Linked DNA regions of Homo sapiens. The protein of the gene in region 3 interacts with the protein of the main gene of each other region in a biochemical or structural test. Each region holds a gene or a part of one and is shown on either strand. Other genes may lie near its edges. The genes, in order: CDK6, DGCR8 and USP51.

Region 1 (7,135 bases), on a different chromosome or scaffold from region 3:
GAGCTAAAGGGCAAGTGGAAGAAAGAGCTTGTCTGTAGAAAGGTTCCAACTGTCTCTAACAGCAAGAAACATCTCTAGAAAAGCTTTGCAAGGGCTGAATTCCCAAAGGACCGGAAAGCAGGGGCAAAATTCCTGAGCCTGAGTTCTCTTTTCCCAGAGCCCAAGAAGGAGAAAATTAGGTAGTGGCATTTAATCTCCAGGACATAGGAAAGAAGAGAAAAGAGCTGTGGGAATACATTCACAATACAGAGACATGTCTCTAGAGGATTATGTGAGAGGAAGCCCTTTCCTCACAGCTACACTGATGGCTTAAAGCTGGGAAGAGGGTGGAGAGAAGGAGAACACCTTAGCCAAATGTGGGGGTGTGGGAGAATCTCACGTTGGAAGTCTTAATACATTTTGTCCTATAGAAATATGGTTAAAAAAAAGGTGTTTAAGTTCTATTATTGCTCTACTTCAGGAACAAGGTTGCCAGGTTGAGGGTTAATTAAAAAACTTTGTGTTAATAATATTGTTTCTGCAAGAAAATTTAGTTTAATTGCCAAATAGTTTACTTATAAAATGAGCTTTTGGAATCACAACTTAGTCAAGAGTTGGATACTATGGTAGATTGGATAACTTTTAGTACATATTCCCTCTTTTCTCTCCCCTCTCACCATAGGGGGAGCATTCTTTCCTCCATTCAAGTTGGCCTTAGGCATGGAACTTGCTTTGGCCAATGGAACATGGGCAGAGTGGCGGGTACTTCTTCCAAGTATGGACCTTCAGGGGCATTGCATATTTCTGCTTGCCCTTCTGGAGCATCGATACCTTCTATCATGAGAAAAACATGCCCCAGGGAGCTGCTGCCTCTCTGGCATGGGCCCCAGCATGAGACACATGGAGAAGACCTGTGCTTCACCCACGGGCAGAAGCAGATATCAAAGGCTGTTAATTCAGGAGGTAAAGCAGACACTCATTACTCACTGGGTTTCAGACATCAAGAACAGCCCAACAGGTACACTTTTCTACCTATTGTTCTGGCCTCCAAGTATAGGAAATTATGTATATGGTTGAGCATTAAGAGTCTCAGAGCACAGAAGTCCTTATTTTCAGTGAGGTATTTTATATGTCCCTGGCACACTAAATACTTATTAAATAAATCAGCAACTAGAAGAAGTATTGCTATATAGTTCTTTTGGAAAAACATCTCCCCAAAGTTGTGAATGTTTAAGAAAAGGCACGTTAAAATGACAAACAAATTACTTAAAGTAGCATGAAACTGTAAGAAAGGAAACATAATATTTACTTCTAAAGAAACATATGTCAAAGTGAATCGAGAGGCTTCTAAACCTGCATTGAAATAAACATTCAAAGATGGCAGATTTAAAAAAATGTGGATCAGAAAGACATTCCAGAATCAAAAGCCACCAGCTGCTACAAGTGTGAAAATGAAACCTCTGGAGGGACTGTTGCCTCCTGCTCCATGTGGCTGTGGCATGTGATGCCTATAGCAGCTACTGAACTGATATTTGTGCCCACCACCCAGTCTGGGTAGAGCAGGTGTCTCACTGGCACAGTGCAGACGAGCTTGACATCAGAAAAACTTACCAGAAGTAGGTCTTTGCCTAGTTCATCGATATCTGTTACAAACTTCTCAATTGGTTGGGCAGATTTTGAATGAAAAGCCTGCCTGGGAAGGGCAACATCTCTAGGCCAGTCTTCTTCTCCTGGGAGTCCAATCACGCTACAAAAGAACCACACATGGACATAAGCATTAGCTACTATGCAGAAGCTGTTTTCTCATCAATTTCCAGAGAAAGGCAAAATCTAAGGGGGAGACATGGGGGGCAGAGTCCCAGGAGACCTTCACTTTATCACTGGCAGGGTCTCTGTTTATCTCTGTCCTACTGCAATATGGTGGCCATGGGGGAGAGGGTAATCTCACAGAAGAATTGTAAAATTCAGTGGGAGGAGATAAGAGATTGCTCTGGTAGCAGACACTAAATGTAAGGGATGATGTAGAAATAGAAAATATATTACCAGGCAGTAAGCTCTGACTTAGTGACAAAGCAGGACTTATTGTATTCAGAGGAGACCCATACTGGTACATATCTTCCTTTATGTCCAAGAATGCTTTTTGTGTTTTGATCGAACACCCCAGTATTGACATGATTTTATGATGCTCATCCAACATGGTTTATTAACATATCAATTTGGTTGCATTTTTGGTTAAAGAGCAATTCCCTACATATTAAATATATACATTAGAATCAGAAGGAAAAATGAGGCTAAAACGTGCTAGTCCTGCATTATACAAACATGATTTTATAAAAGGAAGTCTGTGGTATTCCAAAGTGAGCAAACAGTAAATTAAAAGACTATTATTTATATTTCCCCTGAAAACCATTCTGGGATCAGAAATGTGGAAAGAACAGCAAGTGATAAGCACAGGCTTCGGAAATAGGCAGATTTGGGTTCAAATCCTGCACCTGCCACTTACTGGCAGGTAAGGACAAATTACTTAACATCTATGACCCTTAGTGTCTTTATGTATACAATGATAATAACTTACAGTTGTAATGAGGATCAGTTATACTTTATTTGAATTTATAGTAATATATAAATTTATAATTTAAAGTACAAAGCACAGCACCTGATATACATCACACACAGTCAATTATCAATCAATACACTGCCTACTATTATTATAATTAGAAAATGTTATTAATACAAGATGCATAGGAAATACATCACTACCACACTTAAAATATGAACTGCTTGTATCTATGTATAACTTAAGATTCTTTAAAAAATTAATGGGTCAATGGACTTACATAACTTATACATTGTATAGATATTATTTATAGTTTACATATAGGTCGTAAGTAGGTTTGAACAGAGAAAATCAGAGGATGCAGGGACTTCTTTCTCACACAGACTGTATAACTCTGAACCAAAAATAAAATCATAGTTTAGTGGACGGGGTACATAGCTATTCAAATACTGGAACAAATAATTTTAACTACAGTTAGAAATTGTGCTGGCCCACATTAGGGTCTTCTGCTTGGCCTCTACTTGTTGGGACTAAGGCCCAGGAAGAGGTGTTCTTATGAATGTACTTCCAGATTTCAGGAAGATGTGGTACAGGTCTCAAGATCTGTAGCACTTCATTTCCCCTTCCCTCACCTACACGGAGCCCAGGCCATAGACTTCAGCTGGGAAGATAACCCTGTCATCATGGCTTCTCTGCCTGGGTGTCTGGGGAAGACACTGTAATTCGGCCTCTATCAGGCATACTGAGAGAGCTACATTATTGAGGCAAAGACAGATTCATGGACATATTTACTAGAAGCAATAAATAGAAATGACAATGAGCAATATATAGATTTGTTCAATAGTACAGCCTACAATAGAAGTAAAAAGAAAAAAACCAAAAATACCACTATTAATTATGAAAAGAAATGCACGTGTAAGTGTCTGGATACAATGGGACAGGGCAGAGGAGGGAATGAAAAATGCTTGTTAGAGAGCTTTAAAAATTTCCTTTCATTCCTTTTTAGTTGTCAGGTCTATGTGTATCAATATTTTTGTGTATATTCACCAGTCAGCTAGAAATTGATTATATTAATAACTCCTAGAAATATTTAAAATCTTTTTTATTTGTGGCTTTGAATGTATCTACATCTAATTACATCTTGCAAGTATATGATCAACTGAATGCCAAAAGCCTTCAGAGGAACAGCACATCTCTGTTTGTATGTGTGTACATATACAAATAACTTTATATAATTTTATATAAAATTTTAAACAAACACATAACTATATATATAAAACTTTAAGTCTATCACCTCCTCTGATTCCTGTAATAATTTCCTAAGACATGTAAGTCAGGTGTTATTAGTCTCATTTTATAGATGGGGAAATTGAGAATGAGGAATAAAATGAACTGCCAAAGTCACAGATAGCAAGCTCAGTCACAGAGTCCAGAGTGAGTTCCGTTCTCTCTATTCCAATATTTTATTTCCATTTAGCTATGACATCATTCTTAAAAATGCTCTAAGATGTCACAGGCTAAAACTATTGTTTCACTTTTAATACTTGCTATTACTTGAAGGCTTAAATCTTCCTAAACACAGAAATGTTTTTCCCTTTAAGAGTATGTGAACATGGACCAGGTGGGGTGGCTGTAATCCCAGCAGTTTGGAAGGCCGAGGCAAGTGGACCACTTGACCCCAGGAGTTCAAGACCAGCCTGGGCAACATGGTGAAACTCCATCTCTATAAAAAATATAAAAATTAGCTGGTTGTGGTGCCCTGTGCCTGTAGTCCCAGCTACTTGGGAGGCTTAGATAGGAGGATTACTTGAGCTCGGAAGGCCAAGGCTTCAGTGAGCCAAGATCGCACCACTGTACTCCAGCCTGGACAACAGGGCAAGACCTTGTCTCCAAAGAAAAAAATAAAAAAGAGTATGTGAATATGGCTTTCCTTAAAAAAAATTTGGTTTCATGTCCAGAATGAACTTTTATGGCCCAAATATGTGTTGTGAAATTCTGATAGGTCCATTAAAAATGCTTGCACTTAATTCCACTATTTGGACTGCTGAATATAAGCCTTAAAAGTTGACATTTATATTGGCAAGCCCAACAGGGCACAAAATCTATAAATGGCAGTGATGGAGGAGACAGAAATATTTTTTCAAGTACTTCAGCAGTGACGCTAGGGTGCAGCATTGTCCCTTTTCTCTGGCAAGGTAATGCATTCAGAGGAAACAGAACATAATTTTGATGACACAATGCCAGAAACCACAAAGTAAAATCTAAAGGCACAAACCATAGAACTCTACAGCTTCTTTGCTGTTGGCAACCTACGATTGTCAGGACTTTGCCAAAAGCAGAACTGGCTTTTCTTTGGAAGCAGGTCAAACATGCCGGTCAAATGTTCCTTCTGGTCCATTTCACTGGCCTCATGTACTAAGGGGGCACTAACAATGTTAACAAGATTGCAGACATCAGTGCTGGAGGTAGACACAACTGTCAGGTAGTATAAATAAGGGAAAGAAGGTGATGGCTTTCAAGTCCTGGCAAGCTGACTTTAGTCAAGATTCTCTTTCCTTTTAACAGAAGGTCATCAGTATGTCTGCTTTCCCTAGTTTCCTCTTTATGATCACATGCACACAAAATATATTCAACAGTCATGGGGAAAAATAGATGGGAGTTCATCGAGTGATTAAATAACTTGCCATTCAGAAGCAGGGGTAACATGAAGGCTTTGTGTTGAATTTATCCACTGTACAGAGTGGTCAGTAGTAGGAGCAGTAGCATCACCTGCCCTGGACCCAGGAAGCCCCCAGGCATAAAAAACTAGCAAATGTTATTCAGGCCTTAAAGCTACTATGTTCTGACTCAGCAGTAGCACTGGCATTAACAGAAGTCTAGCTGCTTCTAGTCACTAAAAGAACAAAATCAGGTTCCAGTTTTATTAACTGTTTTAAGCAGTCACGCTTGAGTAGACAGTGCTGATATGAAAATCTGTTCTTTAGGGGTGGTTTTTTTTTTTTTTTCAGTCTTACAGACTTCGAATTTCATAAAAATCACTGGGATTCCTATAAAATGTCACAGACCAAAGATCAGGGCTATTTTTGGTCTAGAACTCCCACTTTTTTCCTACTCCACTCCAATTTGGATGGGCCTTTCAAACACAAAAAACCAAAAAAGGATGCCACACTGCATGCTTTGTCAGAAGAAGTGCCCCAGTTACATTCTAGAAACATGAATGCATACATGCATGAACATGCAGACATGAATGAAACTATGTAAATCATCAAGGAGCGATGTAACTGAAACCAAAGAATTTGAGCACAAGAAAGGATCTTATAGAGAATTTAAGTCAGAGTTTCATTTCTCAGATGAAGTTAAGGAAATAAAAGGTTAAATAATTAATGATGAACTCTAATAGTAACAGTAATAGATAACTTTTTAAAGTGCTTACTATGTGCCAGGCACTGTGTAAGCCCTTCACGAGGTGTTTTAAATGACTTTCTCAAAGTTGCAGAGTTATTTTGCCAAAGACTTAGGGTTCTCATTTTCTATTTTGGTGCTCCAAAGAAAAATGAGATGTGTAGCATACCATCCTTCGCCCAGGAAAACAAAACAAAACAACGCAGAACCAACCTGGGTGACCAAGGATACTCAGTGGGGACAGGAAGCTCACTGGACAAGGATGGGTACTTGGTCACCAGGCATCCCATCTCTGATGGTGGGTGCTTTTGAAATGACCACAAGCAGAAAATGTATTTGAACTAAAAGAACTGGAGCTCAGCCACACGAAGAAAGAGGAGCAGCAAAAAGATCCACACAAGCAACATACAAGCTTCCAGAGCAGAGCAGTTAGGGCTCTGCATAAAACGGCACTTCTACCATGTCTCCACTCACCACACAAATAGTAACACTGTCTGCAGCAGCTGCTTGAAGTAAGAAAGACAAGAGATAAACACATGATATGCATGTCAGAGGAAAGTCACTGTAAATGTTTTAATGCTATGGACACTGGTGTAAAATTATAATTATTACTTACTCCAAGATTTTTCCTAGTTGATCAACATCTGAACTTCCACGAAAAAGAGGCCTAAAAGAATAAAGATACATTTTAAATAAGAAATGTTCTCAGATTACATTTCAATCATATTTGCCATTATCATTGTTTCACAGGAAGCAAAATATTCTTTATGGGTTGGGAAGAAGTAAAAAAAATTGAGACATTTTTCCTTTGGTAAGTGAAGGTTTTCCCTGCATTTCATGTATGGGTTAGGATCTCTCATGAATACCTGGTGGTAGATGAATTCCATGTTTTACAATCACGGGCATTCTGTTTGCAGTCATTCTTACAACAGTGCTACCGTCAAATTCAGTTCCAGGTTTCAAAGATCTGCTTAACTTCGTGATAAGGTGGAACATACCACCATCCTAGTCTCGAACCATAAATAGGTGAGATTCTTTGATATTTCTCAGAGCACTTTTTCCATACTACTCTGCTATCAGAGTACTTCCTCATGGGTCTCTCTCCTTTCATTTGTCCTCAATGCTGCAGTGAACCACCTCTGGGTCTATTTTTCTAATTATACCACTTTTCTTCCTCCCAATATTATGGCAGCTAAC
Region 2 (7,135 bases), on a different chromosome or scaffold from region 3:
TGTAGGGGGCATGGTGGGGGACAGACACGGCAGAACGCTGGACTCTTGCTTCAGATGGCGCACCACAAGCACACGGCACTCTGCACAGGTGCCAGTCCACCACCAGGGCCAGCCTTTGAGCACACCCTGGTGCCTCAGACTCCGGCAGGAACACATTTCCATCGCACACCCACCCATAGGGGCCACCAGTCGAGAAGCAAGCTGGGCACCAGGCAGCTGCCTTTGACATCCAGAGAAACCGCTGTCACAGGCAACAGCTCTGGATCAAGAATGGGCTACACTGAAGGCCCTTGCTTCCTGTTTCAACAAGTCCACTTGCTAAAATGCATGATTCCAAATCTACCTTCTACTCTCACTGTGAAAGTCTTTCAAAATGCTAAAATATCACAAAAGCTTTAAAAATCAATGGGTGGACATATGGACTCGACTGCAAAAAATCTTTGTAAAAAACTGTTGCCGGAGGCCAGGAAAGGCAGAGAGGGCCTCAGTGTCCAAAGAGGCGCTTTTAGGGAATTAAGACTTCATCAGAAAAAGGGACCCTAGGAGGCCAGGGTAACTCCAGGAGGTGGCAGGACGTCATCCTTGCTGGCATCGTGTCCAGACTGGAGAGGGACCACCTTGATGGTTTGCCTCCAATCCCAGAAAGCTAGTTCTGATGCTAAAATTCTGTTTAAGCCAAAAAGGTTTAAAATATTCCTTTCTCTTCTACCTTTTCAAAGAAGGGGAAACACAGAGGGTGGGTGAGGGCAGGGCACCATGTGCACCTCCTGACCAGGTCCCTGTAGCAGCCCTGCAGGCGCCCTGGGCACATGGGCCACCTGGCATCACGGGCCAGCCACAGGACTCAGCCATCCCCTCTCATCTGTCATCCAAGCATCATGTGTCGTCAGTGCGTATTACATACTAAAATTCATGAAAGCCTTCATAAAAAGAGCCTGCAGCAGGTGCACAGAAGCAGGGTCCACCACTGTCCACAGTCACCAGCTGCCACTGGTGCAGTCGCTGAGTCCATCCATTCAGGCCTGGAGCTTTCCAGGGAGAGCCGCTGCTCCACATGTGTGCTGTGTGGCCATGGCTGTCCCTGTACACTAAAGCCTCCACCCTAAGGCCGGGCCCACAGGTTGGCCACAGGGAAGGAGCGTGGGTTGGAGGCCTGACACTGTGGTGCACGATGCATGACTGCTGGTCTCCTCAGAAGTGCGGCTGGCGGCCCCCGCGCCCTGGCCCGTGCCACCTCCCTCACACGTCCACGGTGCACAGGGGCTCACCGCCAGGCTGGGCGGACGCCACAATGGACATCTTGGGCTTCTTTCGAGTCTCCTCCTGAAAGAACAACAAAGGTCAGGGGTACCAGTGAGGTGGGCTTGGCAGAGGCTCGGGAAGACACAAGGTGGAGGGAGAGCCCAGCAGATCATGCCAGGAGGCCCTGGAGCCCCAACGGCACCAGTGCTTGTGATGCCAGGCTAGGAGGAGCAGGGAAGGCCTGGGGCAGGCCAGCCTGAGATTGCAGAGGCCCCCTGCATTGCCATCAGAGTACAACATGTGCAGCCTCCCTGGCAATCAGGACATGTACCAAGAAGTGAAGAATTTTGGGTGCAGTTACAGGGACAGGCCAGGCCTCCCCATTGGGTGTTCCTCCCTTGCCCAGCTTTTGCTTGCCCCAGGCCCAGCCAGGAGCACTATGTCCTGCACCTGCTGCCCTTGAGCCCCACAGCCCCTCTTCCGACCAGGGGCAAACCAGGCAGTCCCACTGGCTCCAGGAGGCCAAGCCCCACCCCAGGGAGCAGCAAGGGACCTGCTGGCCTGGGCGGCAGCAGATACCTCCTGGGGCTCTCACCCAGGCCAGGGGACTGCCACACTTAAGAAAGCTCCCACCCAGAAGGCCCAGGTGGGCAGGTCACGCCGTGGCCAGGCAGACGATGCCTGAAGACAGAAGACACCACTGCCAGCCTGACAGGCCCCTCTTTGAGTGGGGTTCCCAAGGTGGCTTTAGGAGGCTTCATCAGGACCAAGCCCTACAGATTCAACCCTGGCAGGTGCACTGACCTACCTCCAAACACCCAGGGAGGACATGGGACTCAGGTGGCCCACCAAGACTGTGACCTTCATGGTCCACCAACAGGCTGGCCTGCCAGCTCTCTAACAACAGAACCAAAACTGAAGTGATTTATAAAACTATCACACATGTCGAAGCTCAAAGAAAAGCCTGTATCTGATTTTGGAAGGAGGATCCAAGCATTTCCAAGGTGTCAGCTCAGGCACGGGTCCTGGGGTCTGCTGTCCCTCCACAGGTGCCACAGGAATGGCCGTGGCCCGGCAGCCCTCCCGCTAGGGTGGCACTCACCCTTTCCTCAGCTAGCCTCTTCATCTCCTCTTGGAGCTTGCTGAGGATGTGCAGGTTGGGCTTGTTCTTCTTGGCATACTGCTGCAGCTCAATCACACTCTTGTCCGATGTCTCCTGGGAAGTATAGCACCTCACGCTCAGGACTGCAGGCTGTAGCTCTACGGCCTGCCCGCTGCCCAGCAGCTGTGTGCCTGGGACCCTGAAGGCAGGCGCGCCCAGGGTCTGGCAGACACGAAACAGCCAGGAGCTGTGGCAACATAACTGCATGCTGACTGGCCCGCCTCAGTGATGCCAGGCCCACTGACAGCAGCAGAGAGCGAGGGGCAGTCCATAGCTGCCAGGCCTTTCTGCCCACACCACGCCACTTATATGGCCTCCTGCCATGGGCAGAGTAGGGAGGTGAGGTGCTCGTGGTGCCCAGAGTCCTCATCAAGGAGTGAAACCAGAGTGTGGCCATAGCCAGTAAGAACAGCACGCTGCAGCCCAGCCCATCAGCCTCAGGCACTGAGCTCTCTGCACACTCCATGAATGCAGAGCAGCATCAGGCTGGCCTCAGCCCCTTCCCGTCTTAGGCCAGCCCCAAGGGTGCTGTGGTTCCTCGGGATGCCAGAGCTCCCCCAAGCTGTGGCTGTGCCTGGCTGGGACCTTTCCCCCTCCTGCTCAGGGAAGTTTCCCACCCCCGGGCCAGAGTGGGGCTTGCCTTCTCTCCCTCCGTCACAGCCAAGGACCATGCACAGCAAGGGCAGAAGCAAGTGCTACCTACATTTCAACTTGCTTCCCAAAAATCTCTCTCAAGTTCCTTAACATGCCCTGGTGGCCCGTGTGAGCCCCCTCACCCTCCCTTATCATGTCCAGAGTAAAGGCCTCTTCGGGGACAGTGCCGAGGCCTCGGTCTCAGGGACCTAAAGGCAGGCCCTGCTCTTGGCAGCTGGCTTGGGCAGAGGGCCCACCCACCACACAGTCCTAGGGCTGCCCCACCTGCAGGCCTAACCCCTCCACAACTACTTCCCCTTCCAATGACCAGGAGGGCAAGAACCCAGAGAGTTTCTGTAATCATTTGAGGAAAATGATTACACTCACCTCCCCATGTTACCCTCCACCCCTCAGGAGTGGGCACTGGCTTACACTGCAGGATGTTGGCCACAACAGCAGAAACAAGACAGATGGTACACATATGCTCTTCTGTTAGAGATGGACCGGCACTGGTACCAGGGAGAGCTACCCTGACACACTCGCTCTCCTTCAAGCAGGGAGAGCTGGCCCTGGCTCCTGAGCCTTTGCACACCTCCGAGCCGGGCGCACCTTCAGCATCTCCTGCCTGGCCCTGCCTTGCACTTTGGCCATCTCCCTACAAGCCACATAGCTGGGCCCAGCCTGCGTTCCCAATCACCCACACTTCACTGACCATGCCCAGCAGGCTGGGATAGGAGATGTAGCTGGGACGACCCCACCCCTGCCCACAAAGCCACACAAGTGGCCCAGGAGAGAGGCAGCTGTGAGCAACAGCAGAGCTGCCCAGCTCTGCCCCCTCTGAGCACAGAGCCTCAGGAATACGCTCCAGGGTGGCAGCACAGGCTGCCCTGGGACCTGCTGATGGCCAGTTACCTGCTTGACCATCTTGCTGCTCTCACGGCCATACATGCGCAGTAAAGACCCCCAGTTCTTGACATGTGGGTGCAGCAGCTGAAGGATCTTCTGTGAGGCTAACTGCTTTCCAACTCTCTTGTTCTTACCTACACAGAGAAAGAGCAAGCATGGAGAGGGGGTCACAAACACCCAGTGCTCATGGGGCCCCCTGCCGCTCCCAGCCCTCCTGACCCACACCCCGAGGGCCAGCCAGGGCACATTCTACAGGAATAGGCAGCACTCTGCCACTGCTCTGGGCACCTGAGTCTCACAGTACCCAGCTGCCACCTTGAGAGAGTGGCCCTCAGAGTCTAGGAGCTGAGGACACTACCACTCAAAGCCACGCAGCCGAGAGCCTCCCTCCCGCCAAGACGCACACCTCCAGAAACAGGGAGCAGCAGGATTCTGCTGGCTGTTCGAGGAGGAGGGCCTTTCCTCCTGCCACAGGGACAAGGGCTGGACGGAGACAGGGGTGACAGCGGGGGAAAGGGAAAAGACAGGGAAAGTGCAGGCAGGACGGCTGCCAGTCCGCCTTAGGCTGAACGTGTGGTGGCCAGCACACACAGCTGGGCTCAGGGACAATGCCAGGGCAACAGCTGAGACCAAGCCACAGAGGCGCAGGGCCACACCAGGGGCCGCCCGCCCAGCGGCCACCAGGCAGCAGAGAAGGAGTCCTTACACCACCCGCGCACTGTGTGCTTGCCACACGCCATGACGTATTCACTCTTCTGGTTTTTCCCAGGAACCACTTCAAACTTGATAGACGTGTCACCCATCCCATGGTTTCTTTAAGAGAAAACAGACAACAGATGGCGTCCCCTGAGCAGAGCAGCCAGCTGCCTCTGAGGAGGCCTGCTCTGGGAAGCCCTTAGGAAATGACCAAGCCTCTCCCCAGACTGCATCTCAGCCAGAGGAGGGAATTCTCCACACGCCCGATTCAGGCCTGTGGGACTGACTGGTGGCCAGGGCCAAGGGGCTGCTGTGTACCCAGGGAAACCTGGCCATGCCTCTGCCTTGGGACAAACAGCCACAAGAATATGAGACGCCAGAGAGGAGCTCCCCCGACCTGACTCATGGGGGGAGGCACCCCCCTACCCTACCTTTTAAGGCACTCGTGGAGGATCTGATATGGAGACAACAGCCCAGCCTTGCTGGTCAGCTCGTAGACCCGCGAGTCCTCGATGCTGATGTGGTTAAAATACTACAACACAAAGCAGAGGCTTGTGAGTCCCCACCAGGCCCACCGGCCTCTTCATGGCTGGGCCTGCGGTTGGCTTTCCCCAGATGCTTAATGTCTGTTCTTGTGAGCTCGCCTAGCACTTCATACCTCAACTCTGCAAGGAACCCACCGGGTACAAGACATGCTCCGTACCTCACCGTCCAGTTGCCCATCTCCAGAGCCCACAGCACCCTTCCACCCTGAGCACTGTGGGATGGAGTCTGGTATCCTAAGAGGGCCCCAGGTACATGGCTGGCTGGCCAGGCCCACCTTATTTGGATCTGATTCTGATCCATAAGGCACCCTTCTCAGAACTCTATAAAGATAAAGCACCTTTGCAGAGAGGCTTTACTATTGCCACAACTGAGACTACAGGAGAGGGAAAGTCAGCCAGACCCAAAAGCTGGCCTTAAAAGGCCCAGCTCCCCAAAGGCCAAAGCCCCACACAGCTACACAGAGCCCAGCCCCAGGTGGCCAGCAGAGGCCCAGCCCAGCAAGGCTTCCAACAGTGTCATCACCCTGGCTCTGCAGCCAACCCAAGAACACACAGGAAGGACAAGAGAGGCAGACAGGGAAACAAGAGGTGATGGGGAGATTCCACACAGTGAGGCATAGGGAAGCTGCAGCAGGCTGAGGTGCAGAGACATTGCCCACTGTGCCTTCCCAGACTAGGACTTTGGCTGAAGCTGAGAGTGCCTCCTGGGTGAAAGGAAGATGCTATCCAGCCCACTCTGGAGCATGGACAACCTCCCTGGTGGAGCTCCTGTGACAACATACCACAAAGTCAGTGGCTTAGAACAAGAGGTTTATTCTCTCACCATTCTGAAGTCTGAAATCAAGGCCTCAGCAGGGCCATCCTCTTTCAGAAGCCTCTAGGGAGCCTCTGCCAGCTCCTGGTGGCCCCGGCATCCCTTGGCTATGGCAGCATTGCTCCGATTTTCATATGGACTACTAGCCCTGCCCCTCCTCCCTCTTCTTAGAGAAACACCAGACACACTGGATCACACCACTGCTCTGCTTCAGTGTGATCTCATGTTAACCTAATTCTATCTGCAATCATCCTCTTTCCAAAAAAGACCACACTTTGAAGCACTGGAGATTACCCATCAGCCACACCCTCACAGTGCTTCCCCCACTGGCCCTGTTCTGGAGGGGTCTGCAGGGACCTGGAGCCTGCCTGGCCCATGGGCAGCGAGGAAACCTAGAATCAAATGATTCACACGCCTCGCTGTGCAGGCTCCACAGTGTGCCAAGCCCGCTCCACAGGGACACTGGCCCTACAGACAGGGCAGTGGGCAGCTCCTCTGCCCTCGCCGCTCCAGCAAGCAGCAAGGCCAACTCGCTGCAACTGCATAGAAGAGGAAGGCACTAGCCCTGAGGTTGGCAAGCGAAAAATCCTCGAGGTATGGCTTGGCTACTGTCTTCAAATAGGTCCCCAGAAGACACTGCTCCTCTCAAGTGCACAAATCAACATGGGTCTTTTTCCAGGGAAGGTCACTCACCAAGACATCAGGCCCTGGAACCTCAAGGGTTTGTCAACCAGCCAACCAATTAGCAACGTCCAGTGCTGTCGGCCCACAAGAACCCACATACCCCACGGCTTCGGGACTGGCCCTGGAGAAGCTGAGGCAGTGGCTGACACACACACAGCTAGAGAGCACGCTCAGAAGTTTCTGGCAAAAGACCGACGCCAGCCGGGCGCGGTGGCTCACGCCTGTAATCCCAGCACTTTGGGAGGCCGAGGCGGGTGGATCACGAGGTCAGGAGATCGAGACCATCCTGGCTAACAAGGTGAAACCCCGTCTCTACTAAAAATACAAAAAAAAATTAGCCGGGCGCGGTGGCAGGCGCCTGTAGTCCCAGCTACTCGGGAGGCTGAGGCAGGAGAATGGCGTGAACCCGGGAAGCAGAGCTTGCAGTGAGCCAAGATTGCGCCACTGCAGTCC
Region 3 (7,288 bases):
AGTAGGTCTGTGTGTCACTTCAAAATCCTTGCCTAATCATTTACTTTTTTTTCAGTAAGTGGTCTGGTAAGACTAGTCTTTCTCTAGACCCTGTTTGTGATAGAACAGTAAATACCCTTCACTGTAGAGTAAGTCCTCAATGGTAGCCTTGGTGATGATGGCATCATCACAGCTGAACCACTGGTCCTTTTGTTGCCGGATGAAGCTGGTATAGTGGCCACTTTCCAAAGTTCCATGGTGATTAATCACTGCAAACAAGGAATACTTATTCTCATTGGGCACACAATCTGTTGGTGGCTGGCCTTCTTTCATTCTGCTCTCTTTAGTAGAGGCCAAAAACGGAGTCATGTCCAGCTCCAAGGGAAAGGAGATAAAGGTATTAATCTTTCGCCTCTGTTTGCCTACATGCTCAAACCGCTTGAGATGAAAACAAGCCACAATGGGTAATTTTTTCATTGTGAGCTGTTTAGTAGACTCCTGGTAGCTTTGGCAACTATTGCATTTGATTTTGGCACTGCTTCCTAGGTGCTCTGGCCTTGTAAACCACTGTAGACAGTCTGTAAGTGAGGGGATTCCTGGTATGTGGTCATCCCTGCTCACTGTGCTGTCAGCCCTCTCTGGGTTCTGGGAATCGAATGTGGCACAAGAGCCAGGCAAGTCCAAACTGATGTCCCAGCATGGGTCTATGGTGGTAGAAACACTATGGCAGGCTTGACATGTGACATCTGATTGCAGGCCACCTGTAAAGATTTGGTCTATGATGCAGTTACAGCAGTTGGGGTTATTGGCCTCCTGCCCACCACTATCATCTTTGCTGTGTCTATGTAGCACGTCTAATATTGCAATAAGGAACTCATGGGCATCCTGCTGCCTGTACCCTGCTAAATGTTCTGCATGGATCCATATCAGATGCAGTAACTTATAGGGAATGTGAGGAGTTCGGCTCCCAGAGTACATAGCATGAAAAAGCGAAGACATTTCACAGACCAGACACAAGCTGGGGCTTGTCATTATACATTTGTGCTTGTCAGAGAGGAAGAAATCTTTCAGTAGAGGAATATGGGTAAGTGCCTGGACAATACAATTCATAAAACAAGTGTTCCCAAGATTGATTAGCCCTCTCAGGCCTACAGTATAGACTGACTTTTTTCTTCTCTTTTTCTTGGGTTTCACCAATTTTGGCTCCTGTTCCTTTGTCTCACAGGTTGATTGCTTGTCTTCAAACCCTGATGTCATAAACTGTTGATGAGAAACATCTGTTGAGGTGGAAGTTAATAATCTCAAAATTTTTTCTTTTGTTTCTTTGGCAATCTGTTCTATGTCTTTGTCATATACATAATCCTTACACATGAAGCAATATATGACCCCATGATAAAGGTCTACAGCTAAATGGTGCTGCTTTGTTTCTGCATGTTTGTGAATATGTTTCTCAGTGAAGCAGCCAAAAAAGACACAGGAGAGACAAGAGTGGAGTCTGTTCATATGGGTACTACATACGTGACAGATGCATGACTTTGCTTTACGTTTCCTAGTCTCTGGGGTCCCACTCCAAACGAAACGCTGGTAGATCAACCTCAGGTTCTTCTGCCAGTTCTTACCTACTTTAAAGCTCTCCACATGAGAGCAGCCTGTGGGACCCTGACCAAACTCGACCTCCAGCAACCAGTCCCCTAAGCCGCCAGGATCCCCCGACCCGTCTAGGTCACCAGAGCAGCTTCTCCGTGTCTGAGGCCTGGACCCAGGCCGGGATCTGCGCCGGGATCCACGCCAGGCCCTGGGCCGCGGTGCGGGTGGGGGCGGGGGTGGCGGCGGGGGCGGGGGCCGGGCTGGAGGCGGGGGTGGGGCCGAGAGCCCAGGCTGGCTGCGGGAGCGGGCCCGGGGCTGGGGCCGAGGGCGGGGCTTGCGGCGCGGGCAAACGGGCGAGGAGCTGCTGTGACAGCGAAGGGGGATTGAAGGGAGCACCTTCTCGTCGCCGCCGCTGCTGCTCCACGTCAAGTTCTCCTCCGGCGCGGGCTCACGCTCTTGTAATGGCTCCAGCTTCATCTCCTCGGCTTCACGTCTCGAAGACGCCTTCGTAGCCCCCGCCGCCGCCTCCTCCATTTTCCCCGCCTTCTCAACCGCCTCCTCAGGAGAGGCTCCTCCCCCACCTCCGGAGATCCAGCGGACCCCAGAGCCGGAGGGCAAAGAAGTTTCTCGAACCTGGGCCATCAGATCACTCCCCGACCTGAGGAGCAAGGCGTCTGGAAAACAGCTGCGACTGTAGATGAAAGGAGACAGAGACTTCTGTGAATGATCTGCCCAGCGTCATGGCCGCGGTGCGCAGTTAGCGCCCCCAGGACCCCTCCCATCGGCCCTTGAGCTCAGCCCGCGGCTTCTGTCGGCTCCACCCACTCAACTGAGAGGCCCCTGGAGCTGATGGGGAGACCGAGGCGGTTACCTGCTTCAAAGGCGATCAGATCATGCCAGGGGACTGGGAACAGAAGGCTAGCGAGCGGTGGGGGTGGGGAACGGCCTGAGCTTTAGGACAGAAAGGATGGAAACTTCTTTAAAAAAGGCGCCACCCTCTGACTGCTTTTTTGCGCCCTGCGCAGCCTCGCTTTGGTGCAGCTTCCTCTGACGTTCTTTCCCTGTATCCTAAAAAACACTTGGGTCAACATTTTCTCTCCAAAATGGCTGAAAGGACGCACTTTTGGAAAATGAACTCACAGGAAGAAAGTGTCCCTCTGTTTCTACCTAACCTATACTTCTGTGACCCGGTGTGTTCCACTCTAAGCCGTTGCCCCTCAGCGCACTTTCGGTCCACCCAGCTCTTGCGCCCTCTCACGCTTTTTCGCGCTTGTGCTCTCACACCCCTTTTCTTGCTTCTGCGACTTCAATTCCTATGATTTCTCCTAGAATTCGGATTACTACTCCCTCCCTTCACGCATTTGCCACCTCTATGGCCACCACTATCCTCGCGCGACCCCCGAAGTCTCCGCTCCCTTTTCCCTCTCCTGCCCCCGCAACACCCCCAGCCCGGCAGTTTGTTTAAAGGTCTGGGTTACCTTGGGCCCCAGGCGCGTGATATAGAACGTCAGCAACTGCTGCTGTCCAGGCGCTCCTCAGCCAGCCTTCTCTCCTGACCTCTCCTCAGGGCTGGTCACAAGGGGGCCGCCCCCTGGCCCCTCCCCTCTCGACGTGCGGCCCCCAACCCCGGATTCTGCCCTCCTGCAGTGATGAATGGCACCGCTGTCCCGCGCAGGCAGGCAAACCTCTTCCTGAAACAGACTCTGCTGGAGGCAACAGCAGCAACAGATTCTACAGAAAGCCCCTGAAATGGAGGCTCAGGCCTCACCTAGCTCCAGGCCCGCACTCCACAGAAAAAAAGATTCACCCGGCGTGGGGGTGGGGGCTTCCAGAGATGGCAACCCTCTGGCAGGAATCCCTCAGGATCCTGTCAGAGCCTGGTCTCTGGGAGTTGACGGAGGGAGGGAGGGAGAGAGAGAGAGAGAAAGAGAGAGAGATTATCCCAGAATGTGCAGGGGAGGAAGCATAAGCAAGGGCTCAGGCTCAGAGAGACCTGAGCCCAGGCACATGCTTGCTGTGTGACCTCGGATAAAACACTTAACTTCTCTGAGCCTTAGTTGTGTCAATTTTTAAAGAGAAATTGAAATAATAACCCTAGCCCAATGTGAACACTGAGTCATAGTATATATCAAGTAAAAGACCTTTTTGGCGAGCTTTATCTGTCACACCTCTTTTTTCAGTCCGCTCCTGAAAATCAGCATAGAGAACAACTCCTGATGCAGAGTAGAGGAGAAGAGAATGCCTTTCTCTTTCAAAGCTCTCTCAAAGTTATGGCTCAGTTCACCCGATCATCCATCCTAGGCAGTCCATATACAGGAGCATGTATTCAACAAAGATGCCATAGGTGCATTATAGCGCTAGATTGTGCTGGGAGAAGCACAAGATACAACTGTTTGTGTCCTGAAGTCCATACGCCAGGAGACTTTTCCTTTTCTTTGACAGATCCGGCATCCAAGGCGACAACCCGGAGGAAAGCTATCTCCAGGGCTTGTTGCCCTTCCGGTCCAATCCCAAGAAAATTACGGTTTATTACAGCGGATGTTTAATGCTACATTTAATCTCTCTGAGAAAGTCACACACCTCCCCTCAAAACCTCACGATTAGGATTCAGCTCTCTTAACTTGGCAGTGGCATCTAGTGGATACCTCCGCACAATGGATATCACTGATTTTGTGACTTGGTTTAGATTCGACCATATCTCAGTCACATACTAGCACCCGGAGGGAAAGTGCTTTGGAATTATAGACTGGCTTGTGCAGGAAAACGTGCTTTTTCTCCCCTAGGGAAGGGCATTTTCTCAGCCACAGCTAAGCAAAGAGTTGCTCCACTCTGGGTTAGCAGCCCTAGAAGGAAATGCTGAGTCAGTCATTTGCTAGCTGTGCCACCTGTGGCTTGGATCCCAGCTGCTCTGAGACAGCCCTGCACCCTTTATGCAGGCAGGGAGGCAGGGCACAATTTATAAATACTTCTGTCTTCTGAGCCTTCGCTTTCTCCTGTGCAAAATCAGAATCATGAGAATGCCAGCCCTACCTAGATTGGTTTATTCAGCAGATATGTAAAGAGCACCTACTGCTGCACTGGGCACTATGAATATACAGCCAAACAAAACTGGGCACAAAAGCAAGTAAGCCAGAGTCCCTGCCTGAGGTCCACATCGGGAAATGCATAGGAATGTGCTGTGAAGATTAATGTTAGTTAATAAAGGCCTAAAAACCACTCGTAATCAACAACTTAATATTTGGGAGGTGGGATTGTTACAGTGCTTCAAAAAGTTTCTGAAAACAGTTGTTATTGAGCTAGACACGCCTTTAAATCAGCCCACACGCTATCGTGACCAAACAAACGATTTCTTCATTGACAATTGTCCTGTAGGAAAACCTCAGGACAGCGTGATGGGTCACTACTGTCAAAATGAAAATGAATGGGTCTGCATGGTTTAGGCCTTTCTGGAGTTCACTGGTTCCTCCAAAATGAAGCTGCGTCTAACCTTCTGGTGGACTTAACAGACTGCTAGACCCCACTCCCAAAGTTCCCAGTTCAGTGGGTTGGGTGAGGCCCAATAATTTAGGTTTCTAACGCTGTACCAGCTGATGCGGATGCTGCTGGCGTGGAGATGGTACTTTGAGAACCACTACTGTGGGATAATGTGTAAAGAAGCCCAGGTCAAGGCACTCTGGCCTTGGTAGCAGGAGCCATGTCTGATGGAGCTGGTTTCCCAGGCCTGTGTTATGTTGGCGTCTCTTACAGATTCTAGCTGTGGCAGGTGTGGCAGGGTCCTTTGGGAGTGGGGTGGTGTATGAAAGAGCAGGATTGGGAAAAAGCCTGCCTCTGTGCTCCTGGTGGCTCGCTCAGTACCTTGAAAACTGGACCCCTGAAGCCTCACACAGCCTTCTTTCTCCCAATCTGGGCCTCTTCCCCTCAATGACCTCGCTTCTCAGAGGCCAGCATCCCAAAGGGCAGACTTGGAGCCATTACCTGCCCCTGACTAGGGCTGCAGGGAGGGTGCCATGGACTGGGTTCCAGTCCTTTGGGGCCCACATTTGTCTGCCCAGCCTCCTGCCCCTGTCCCCTCACTGGATGGATCCCCTCTTCTGTTCCTTTTCTTCCTGTGCTCCAGCTCGTAGCTGGTCTGCCTCCAACCTTCTGAAGCAACAGCCTCAGACACCACTGGAGTGTGCCCTCTCCTGCCCACAGACCCATGGTGACTCCCTGTGGTCTCTTGGTTAAAATGGAAACTGCCCAACTTACTCCAACTCCCCCCCACCCCCACCCCTGAGTAGGTCCAACCTCAGCTTCATTTTCTGCTTTTGTGGGCTCCAGCACTTCAACCACAGAAGCCTCTGTATTGTCCGTGCACATGAGATTACATATGTGAAAACATGCGGCCTGTCAGTCCATTGCCTTCCCTTTGCCCTTGGATGTTCATTTCAAAACATCCCCTAGAGTAGGTGTTTTAGTTGGGGTTCTCCAGAGGGACAGAACTAATAGGATATATGTATCCTACACACACACACACACACACACACACACACACACACACACACACACGTATATGTATACATATGAAAAGGAGTTTATCAGGGAGAATTGGCTCAAATGATCACAAGGCGAAGTCCCATGATAGGCCGTCTGCAAGCTGGGGAAGAAAGCAGCCAGTAGTGACTCAGTCTGAGTCCAAAAGCCTCAAACGTAGGGAAGCCAACAGTGTAGTCTTCAGTCTGTGTCCCGAGGCCCAAGAGCCCGCCTGCAAACCACTGGTGTAAGTCCAAGAGCCCAAAGGCTAAAGAACCTGGAGTCTGATGTCCGAGGGCAGGAGGAACAGAAGGAAGCATCCCGCACGGGAGAAGGATGAAAGCCAGAAGACTCAGCAAGCCAGCTTGTCCCACCTACTTCCATCTGCCCTGCCTTACCCGTGCGGGCAGCCAATTGGATGGTGCCCATCCACATTGAGGATGAGTCTTCCTCTCCCGGTCCACGGACTCAAACGTCAGTCTCCTCTGACAACACCCTCACAGATGCACCCAGAAACAATACTTTATCAGCTATCTAGGCGTCCTTCAATTCAGTCCAATCAAGTTGACACCTAATATTAACCATCACAGTAGGGATCCTCAGCCTTTTGGTGCCTTGGATCCCTTTGATATCCTGGTACAGCCGGTGGATCCCTTAAGACAATGATATTTTTAACATAAATATATATAACTAAACACACGGGATTATAAAAATGCATTGTATGGAGATGGCATTTTGTACTTTTAGAAAGATATTGTGATGTGAGGAAATTTTTTTTTTAATTAAACCTTACATAACTATCACAAGATGGGTATAATAACTACCATAGTTTCAAAGTAGTGCTGAGCATAGGTGATACTCTGAGAAATGTGAAAGAAGTGTAATGTGATACCGAAATTTTTGTTGGCGACACAGTCACATGTAGTACTACTATCAATGGAGTTTCATGCCTAGGCTCATAGTTTTAGGACATGATCACTGTAAGTTAGAGGTGGGTGAAAATAAAGGCGCAGCTCTTTTCCCCACACACATGCACAGACCTCTCTCTGACTAGGCTTGCTTTACGATGCCCTGAGCACTTTGCCTGCTTAGTGGGCCAAAGAATTACAGACCATTTATTAAGTGCATATCGTGTGCTCTTTTCTCTTTCTTTTTTCTCACAAAACTTTGGTATGCCCTATTTATGAAGAAGGAGAGATACAAAAACAAA

Evidence for each region.
Region 1: the proteins of USP51 (region 3) and CDK6 form a complex in vitro, tested with the Homo sapiens proteins (one study listed by BioGRID).
Region 2: the proteins of USP51 (region 3) and DGCR8 form a complex in vitro, tested with the Homo sapiens proteins (one study listed by BioGRID).

Annotation. Positions count from the first base shown.
Region 1 is NC_000007.14:92,616,482-92,623,616, forward strand, and holds part of CDK6 (cyclin-dependent kinase 6), read right to left. Parts: intron 6,606-7,135; coding exon 6,555-6,605; intron 1,727-6,554; coding exon 1,591-1,726; intron 1-1,590. UniProt on the Homo sapiens protein: Serine/threonine-protein kinase involved in the control of the cell cycle and differentiation; promotes G1/S transition. Phosphorylates pRB/RB1 and NPM1.
Region 2 is NC_000022.11:20,104,213-20,111,347, reverse strand, and holds part of DGCR8 (microprocessor complex subunit DGCR8), read right to left. Parts: intron 5,172-7,135; coding exon 5,071-5,171; intron 4,757-5,070; coding exon 4,650-4,756; intron 4,078-4,649; coding exon 3,950-4,077; intron 2,459-3,949; coding exon 2,345-2,458; intron 1,324-2,344; coding exon 1,240-1,323; 3' UTR 1-1,239.
Region 3 is NC_000023.11:55,486,732-55,494,019, forward strand, and holds the start of USP51 (ubiquitin carboxyl-terminal hydrolase 51), read right to left. Parts: upstream 3,118-7,288; 5' UTR 3,045-3,117; exon of another isoform or gene 2,635-3,044; 5' UTR 2,438-2,634; intron 2,316-2,437; exon of another isoform or gene 2,258-2,315; 5' UTR 2,209-2,257; coding exon 73-2,208; 3' UTR 1-72.